Linked DNA regions of Homo sapiens: region 2 is reported to be linked to region 1. Evidence: microRNA targets listed by miRTarBase, many of them from high-throughput screens and not tested one by one. Region 1 holds a microRNA gene; the other region holds the end of a gene's coding sequence.

Region 1 (4,148 bases):
AGGCCACCTGCCCTGGGATGCTGGCCCCGGTCCTTCCAAAGCCACCTCCAGTGCAGCGAGCCTCAAGGTGGGGGAACTTGGCCTGCATGTGGTCCTGTGCGGCCCACCCACCACACAGCTCCCCACATGGCCCCCGAGCGGCCCACTCACCACACAGCTCCCCATGTGGCCCCAAGCGGCCCACTCACCACACAGCTCCCCACATGGCCCCCGAGCGGCCCACTCACCACACAGCTCCCCACGCGGCCCCCAAGCGGCCCACGCACCACACAGCTCCCAACGTGGGCCCCGAGTGGCCCACGCACCACACAGCTCCCTACGTGGGCCCCGCACAGCACACTTACTGTACAGCTCCACGGTGTTGAAGGGCTCGTCCCCGAACTCCAGCTGAGTGAAGATGATGGCATAGTCTCTGAAGTTGGTGGCCAGCACCCAGAGCTCCAGCACGCCTATTGCTAGGAAACAAAACCCCCCGCCTCAGGGGAGGGCAGCTGCTGTATCCATCCAGGGGCCGCTGAGCTGATGCTGGCCACAGGGACAGAGGGGCCAATTCAAGTGAGAGCCCCCCTCCCCAGGAGACCCCTCCAAGCACACCCAGAGCCCCCAAGCTTTGTCCCCCACCCCCGACCCCACCTGGTGCCAGCATCAAGGGGCTTTCAGACACTGACGGACAGACAGACAAGCACTGCCCCAGCCTGTCCCAGGTGTGAACGAGGAGCGGCTGGGTCACACCAGCCCAGCCCTGTACCTGTAGACAGCCACTAAACAGGCCCCTCGCCCTCTGCACCTATGGGGACCTTGGCTGGACCTCACTGGTGTCTGAGCCTGCTGGGAACAAGGTTCCAATCCTCTGTCCAGGGGCTTCTCTTCACCCTCAGGATGGGCAGCAATCCCAAGACCAGAACCTGTAGCCTCCTGGCTCTCGGGAGCGGAGTCAGCCCTCCGTCCCTGCCCGCAGGGGGCCTGGGGATGCTGCAGGGAAGAACGGCCTGGGTGAGGCCGTGGCCGTCAGACTCACAGGGATTCTCAAACACCCATCCGGAGTTTCGCTTTATCAGGTCCATGACACTCTGGTCACACCCTCCCAGCCTGGAAAAGAAGGGGCCTGTCACCCACTCAGGGTCAAGACCCCGGGGCCCGGTGAGAGGAGACGGAGCTCAGGAGTCCAGGCCAGGCCAGCCAGCAGTGAGGCCAGAGCTTCCATCTTCTGCCAGATGCCCCGATGCCCGGAAACCTGTTCTCGGAGAGTGGACGGCGTGGGAGTCCTGAGAGGGGCGGACACTCCCATTCACTTCCTGAGAGATCCTCAGTGCCAGATCTCCACCAGGAACGCTGAATGCTGCTGAGGACACAACAGGAGACTCGACAGACGGGAGGTTCGCCCGCGACTCGGGGGAAAGATGGGGTGGGGTGGGGGTTCGCCCGTGACTCAGGGGAAGGATGGGGCGGGGTGGGGGTTCGCCCGCAACTCAGGGGAAGGATGGGGCGGGGTGGGGGTTCGCCCGTGACTCAGGGGAAGGATGGGGTGGGGTGGGGGTTCGCCTGCGACTCAGGGGAAGGATGGGGCGGGGTGGGGGTTTGCCTGCGACTCGGGGGAAGGGGCCGGCGCTCCCTAAGTGGTCAGTCCCCAGAGTGAGCAAAACCCAGCAAAGGTGCAATGGTGTTTGCCAAGGAAGGAAACTGAGGCTGAGTCCATGCGGGAGGAACAGCAAGAAGAACTAGGAAAGCCACGTGGGAGCTGCCACCTCAGCCTGGAGCCCCTTGGTCCCAGCTCGCCCTGAGGCCAGGCCTGGCCCGGGGGGTGCAGTGGGGCCCCTGCCCATACCCTGCAGGCGCAGGTGCAGGGGGAAGGCACGCTGGTGAGGAGGGCAGGTTCTTCTCTCTGGGCCCCGTACCTGGCTCAGTGGTTCAGGCCTGGGCTCTGTCGCCAGCCTGCCAGGGGGTAGACACCCACCACGCCACCCAGCAGGCCACTCTTCTGTGAAGGGAGGCGGGCACCGACTCCTGCCCCAGCACGGCTACCCCCACAGCCCGGCTGCCCTGTAGGTGTCCCCTGTGTAGCACGGCCGCCCCACAGCCTGGCCCACCCGACCCCTGCACGCCGCCACCAGCCATGCATGTGGTCGGGTGCGCCTGCCTGAGGCCACAAGGCCAGTCTGGCCAACAGCGTCCATGACCATATTGTTTGGGGATTTATGTTATGAAAGAACCAGTGGTTCTTAGGTCCGAATGCATTATCCTCCTTTAAACAGAATTCCCGAAAAAGGCCTGCTGAGAGGACAGGCTTCCCCAGCTCTGACCACAGCCTGCAGCCCAGATGACCCAGGACAGGGATGCATGAAGGAGCATAGTCAGAGCAGTGCCCGCCGCGGTATTGAAGGTGGGAGTGCCACCTGGAGGCCCCAGGGACACAGATGTGAGTAGCTGGGCAGAGGGCTGGTGGCTCTGCACAGAGCCCAGTGGGAAAAGTGACGGGGGTGCAGAGGGGCCGTGGGAAGCCCCCAGGCCGCGGTGCCCGGGAGCAGATGTGCAAAGTACATGATGTGGCTGAGCCACAGTCCTGCCTGCGGGAAGGCCTGGCAGGACCCGCCCACTCACCCGTGCTGAGAGGACAGCGTCCGCAGGTTGTTTTCTGGAGTGAGGGTCACCACCACCCCCACGACGTTCTTCATGTCCTTCTCCATGGCAAAGCCCTTTTCCCGGGAGGCCACCGCAAGCACGTACCAGGGCCCAAGAAGCTGCATTGAGGCGGCTCCCGTTAGGGCCGCCAGCCCTCCAGCCTCCAGCCTCCAGCCTCCAACCCTCCAGCCTCAGCCTCCAGCCTCCAAACCTCCAGCCTCAGCCTCCACCCTCCAACCATCCAGCCCTCCAGCCTCCAGCCTCCAACCCTCCAGCCTCCAGCCTTCCAGCCCTGCAGCCTCCAGCCTCCACCCTCCAACCATCCAGCCCTCCAGCCTCCAGTCTCCAACCCTCCCGCCCTCCAGCCTCCAACCTTCCAGCCTTGCAGCCTCTAGCCTTCAGTTCTCCAGCCCTCCAGCCTCCAGCTTCCAACCCCCCAGACCTCCAACCCTCCAGCCTCCAGCCTTCCAGCCCTACAGCCTCTAGGCTCCAGCCCTCCAGCCTTCCAACCTCCAGCCTGCAGCCCTGCAGCCTCTAGTCTCCAGCTCTCCAGCCCTCCAGCCTCCAGTTCTGCAGCCCTCCAGCCTCCAGCCCTCCAGCCTCCAGTTCTACAGCCCTCCAGCCTCCAGCCCAGCAGCCTCCAGCCTCCAGTTCTCCAGCCCTACAGCCTCCAGCCCTCCAGCCTCCAGTTCTCCAACCCTACACCCTCCAGCCCTGCAACCTCCAGTCTCCAGCCTCCAATTCTCCAGCCCTCCAGCCTCCAACCCTCCAGCATCCACCCCTCCTGCCCTGAGGCTCCTGCCTGTGGGACTCCCCAAGGGCTGGCCCAACTAATTCCCCACTGCTCATGCTGGTCTGGGCTAGCCCTGGGGGGCCCAGAAGCTGTGTGGCCTTAAAGGAGGGGCTGGCCCCCGAGGACCAGCTCTCCCCACCCCCAGGAGGACTGTACCTGCTCAGGGTCCAGTCTTCCCAACCACACGGCCTGGGCCCTGGGCACCGAGACCAAAGCCAGAAAAGCAGCCAGCAGCAGGCCGCCCATCCTCCCAGGTCTACACTGCGCCGCAGGCCCAGGATGTGCAGTCCCTCCAGGCCCTGGAGACCCGTTTATATGGCTCTGAATTTCTCCGTGTGGGTGGCACTAACTGCCAGGAACCCTCCTGGCCTCCTGCAAAATTACCCAGGGGAGCACTGAGCAGTGGCAGCCTCTGAGCCCAGATCAGACCAGCTGCACAGCCAGGAGAGGGTCTGGAGTGTGTGGATCAACCATACTATACTGATCCCCTGCTTTCTTCCACCAGAAGGTTCCAGAATGGGCATCCTAAAGCCAGCCGCACCACCTCCCCCGTTCCTGGGGACCCACGCTCTCCCTCGCCCAGCCTGGGAAGCAGGGAGACTGCTGTCCGCTGCCAGGCCCGGCAGGAGGCCAAGGTCAAGCCCAAGGAGAGGAACCAGGGCGAGAACAAGTGGTTCTCAGGAACTGCGGTTTTGGATATCTTTTGTTTCAATCATTAAATATAAAAAGTCCCTGA
Region 2 (4,000 bases), not on the chromosome of region 1:
AAGCTCTGCCTCCCGGGTTCACGCCATTCTCCTGCCTCAGCCTCCCGAGTAGCTGGGACTACAGGCGCCCACCACCACGCCCGGCTAATTTTTTTGTATTTTTAGTAGAGACGGGGTTTCACTGTGTTAGCCAGGATGGTCTCGATCTCCTGACCTCGTGATCCGCCCGCCTCAGCCTCCCAAAGTGCTGGGATTACAGGTGTGAGCCGCCATGCCCGGCTAATTTTTGTATTCTTAGTACAGACAGGGTTTCGCCATGTTGGCCAGGCTGGTCTCAAACTCCTGGCCTCAAGCAATCCGCCTGACTCGGCCTCCCAAAGTGCTGGGATTGCAGGTGTGGGTCACTGCACCTGGCCTCTTATTATTATTATTATTTATTTATTTATTTATTTATTTTTTGAGACAGAGTCTCGCTCTGTCGCCTAGGCTGGAGTATAGTGGCACGATCTCGGCTCACTGCAAGCTCCGCCTCCCGGGTTCACGCCATTCTCCTGCCTCAGCCTCCCGAGTAGCTGGGACTACAGGCGCCCACCACCACACCCAGCTAATTTTTTGTATTTTTTAGTAGACACGGGGTTTCACCGTGTTAGCCAGGATGGTCTCCATCTCCTGACCTCGTGATCCGCCTGCCTTGGCCTCCCAAAGTGCTGTGATTACAGGCGTGAGCCACCGCGCCCAGCCTATTTTTTTATTATTATTATTTTGAGACAGAGTCTCACTCTGTCACCCAGGCTGGGGTGCAGTGGCACAATATCAGCTCACTGCAGCCTCTGCCTCCCAGGTTCAAGGGATTCTCATGCCTCAGCCTCTTGAGTAGCTGGGACCACAGGCACCCGCCACCACGCCCGGCTAATTTTTGTATTTTTAGTGGAGATGGGGTTTCACCATGTTGGCCAGGCTGGTCTCAAACTCGTAACCTCAAGTGATCTGCCTGACTCGGCCTCCCAAAGTGCTGGGATTACAGGCGTGAGCCACCGCACCCGCCTAATTTTTAAATGTTTTTTGGTGGAGACGGGGTCTCACTCTGTTGGCCAGGCTGGTCTCTAACGCCTGGCCTGGAGTAAGCCTACAGCCTCAGCTTCCCATATCACTGGGATTACAGGTGTGAGCGAGTATACCAGCCACCACACTGCTGTTTACCAGAGACTGGAGACACACGAGCACCTGGCCTGGGCACTGTGGGAGGTGGCTTTGGGGATGGTGCCTTTCTGGGTGGGTCCGGGATGCTCAGGAGTCCCTTTCTCCCTCATCGCCCAGGAGCAGCCAGGGCTTCCTGCATCTGAAGTTCGCGCGGACCCGTGAGAACCAGGTGGTGCTGGGCCAACACAGCGGGCCCTTCCCCAGCGTGCCCGAGCTCGTCCTCCACTACAGTTCACGCCCACTGCCGGTGCAGGGTGCCGAGCATCTGGCTCTGCTGTACCCCGTGGTCACGCAGACCCCCTGACAGTGACCCTCGGCCCCCTTTTGAGTCCTCGGGCCCAGAATCGTATCCCAAAGCCCTCCCATGGCCTAGAAAATAAATAAGTTATTGTTTGTCTTAGTGTCCTTTCTGGGCTACAGAGGGAAGTGGGATCGTTGACTCCCAGCGGGAAAGCCCTAAGCAGCCCTGGAGAGGGGGATAATGGGGTAATTGAAACCCTGGAGGAGGCCAGGCACGGTGGCTCACGCCTGTAATCCCAGCACTTTGGGAGGTTGAGGCAGGCAGATCACCTGAGGTTGGGAGTTCGAGACCATCCTGACCAACACGGAGAAACCGCGTCTCTACTAAAAATACAAAATTAACCGGGCGTGGTGGCGCATGCGTCTAATCCCAGATACTCGGGAGGCTGAGGCAGGAGAATCGTTTGAACCCAGGAGGCGGAGATTGCAGTGGGCTGAGATCGCACCATTACACTCCAGTCTGGGGAACAAGAGTGAAACGCCTCCATCTCAGAACAAACAAACATAAAAAACCCTCGAGGCCTTGAGGGCCAAGCACATCCCCAGCACTTTGTTTTGGGGACAGAGTTGGGATTGGAACCTGAATCTCCCATAGGGAGGGACCAGAACTCAGCAAGAGACAGAGCGTCGTGGAGCAGATTAAAAACCGCACTCCATAGAAACCGACAGATACAAAGATGGAGAAACTGAGGGGGGCCAGGCTCTCGGGCCAGCCCCGCTCCCTCCCCCCGGCAGCAGTGGCTTGATCTGCAGAAAGGACATCTGTCCCCATGGAAACAGCAGAAGTAGGGGAGGGGAGCTGGGCCTAGCTGGTGTCACTTCAAGGTGACAGGCCAGGCAGGCAGGAGACCTGGGGGGCTGGTAAACACCATGAATCTCCTGACCTCCCCTTCTTCTCCCCACCTCCAGGCCTGCCTGGGAGTGATGCCAGCTGCGGGGGGGGTCTTCCATGGCAGGGGACTGTTTGGAAGCCAGAGTACCACTTCTTCCTCCTTGGATTTGTCCCTATAAGGTGGGAGGGGGGCTTTGAGTTGCCACAAAGTCCCTTGGCCACAGTGGGCCTCTCCAGCCACCCCTGAGAGCTCTGGGACCCCAGATGACCCCTTAAGTCTTTTTGGTGCGTGTATGTGACAGGGTCTCACTCTACCACCTAGGCTGGAGGGCAGTGACATAATTAGAGCTCACTGCAACCTCAACCTCCAGGGCTGAAGTGGTCCTCCCCTCTCAGCCTCCCAAATATCTGAGACCAGAGACATCAGCTGCACCATCACGCCCGGCTAAATTTTGTATTTTTCGTAGAGACGGAGTTTCACCATGTTGGCCAGGCTGGTCTCGAACTCCTGACCTCAGGTGATCCGCCCACCTCGGCCTCCCAAAGTGTTGGGATTACAGGCGCAAGCCACCGCGTCTGGCCTTGTTTTTAAATTTTCTGTAGAAATGGAGTCTTCTTGCTCTATTGCCCAGGCTGGTCTCAAACTCTTGGCTTCAAGTGATCCTTCCACCGCAGCCTCCCAAAGTGCTGGGATTAGAGGCGTGAGCCACCGCACCCGATTTCTTCAGATCTTTTTAGCACTCCCAAATCGCCACAAACACCAGCTTTGCTTTTTCTTCACAAGCCTTTATTAGGTTCTTGGGGGAAAGTGGGAGCGAGATCCATCATTACAGAAATGAGGACGGGGTCTCAGGATGGGGCTGACAGGCTCCCAATCCTCCTGCTTTTTGTTTTTTTTGAGACGGAGTCTCACTCTGTCGCCCAGGCTGGAGTGCAGTGGCGCAATCTCGGCTCACTGCAACCTCCGCCTCCCAGGTTCAAGCCAGGCTGGTCTCAAACCCCTGACCTCAAGTGTTCCACCCGCCTCGGCTTCCCAAACTGCTGGGATTACAGGCGTGAGCCACCGTGTCTGGCCTCGATCCCCCCTTTTTTGTGTGTACCTATGGGTGGGGTCCTGTTGAGGTCTCCTGGGATCTCTCACTCCTCTCCCACTTTGGGGAACCCTTTTGGCCTCGGCTGCTGGGTGGGGCTTGGTCTAGGAGAGACCCTGACCATAGAGACGGGGTGGCCGGGCCTGGGGCTGGGGCAGGGTCTCGGGCTGGGGCAGGGTCTTGACGCCAGGTGCGGCTGGCGGGGGGCCGGTTGCGGGAAGGAGGTTGAATAAATGCTCTGGCCCCTCTGGTCCTTCCCCTCTCCAGAGCAGTCCTCACTCTTCTTTGGGGCCCCCCGGGGCCGGTATAGGACGTTGCTGTAGAATGCATTTCCTAGGATGGATGACACAGACCAAGAGGATCACTTAAGAGAGTCCTGCCCTCTCCAGCTGACCTCTGGGGGATCTGTCTCTTTTTTTTTTTTTCTGTGAGACGGAGTCTCACTCTGTCGCCCAGGCTGGAGTGCAGTGGCGCAATCTCGGCTCACTGCAAGCTTCGCCTCCTGGGTTCACGCCATTCTCCTGCCTCAGCCTCCCAACTAGCTGGGACTACAGGCTCCCGCCACCATGCCTGGCTGATTTTTTGTATTTTTAGTAGAGACGGGGTTTCACTGTTAGCCAGGATGGTCTTGATCTCC

What was found. Region 1 holds the annotated microRNA hsa-miR-6722-5p (AGGCGCACCCGACCACAUGC, at 2,116-2,135, opposite strand). A microRNA usually pairs through its seed, bases 2 to 8, with sites in the 3' UTR of a target mRNA and lowers its output. Matches are read on the target gene's strand: a 7mer-m8 pairs with bases 2 to 8, a 7mer-A1 pairs with bases 2 to 7 and ends in A, and an 8mer does both.
Region 2: the mRNA of TMIGD2 is a reported target of hsa-miR-6722-5p. Seed matches in the 3' UTR shown: 7mer-A1 at 3,210-3,216.

What each region holds. Positions count from the first base shown.
Region 1 is chr9:136,744,826-136,748,973 of GRCh38, forward strand. It overlaps MIR6722 (microRNA 6722), which reads right to left and starts at 2,145; the gene lies at 2,068-2,145. LCN6 (lipocalin 6) reads right to left here and starts at 3,700. Exons shown (of 7, transcript NM_198946.3): 1 at 3,569-3,700; 2 at 2,599-2,738; 3 at 1,019-1,089; 4 at 345-455. The coding sequence starts at 3,658. LOC100128593 (a long non-coding RNA gene) reads left to right here and starts at 1,336. Exons shown (of 3, transcript NR_033913.1): 1 at 1,336-1,376; 2 at 2,253-3,747; 3 at 3,921-4,148.
Region 2 is chr19:4,289,190-4,293,189 of GRCh38, forward strand. TMIGD2 (transmembrane and immunoglobulin domain containing 2) reads right to left here. Exons shown (of 5, transcript NM_001169126.2): 5 at 3,038-3,696. The coding sequence ends at 3,410. It overlaps SHD (Src homology 2 domain containing transforming protein D), which reads left to right. Exons shown (of 6, transcript NM_020209.4): 6 at 1,258-1,533. The coding sequence ends at 1,444. Among named protein-coding and RNA genes, the nearest start is that of TMIGD2, 11 kb to the right of the region's middle.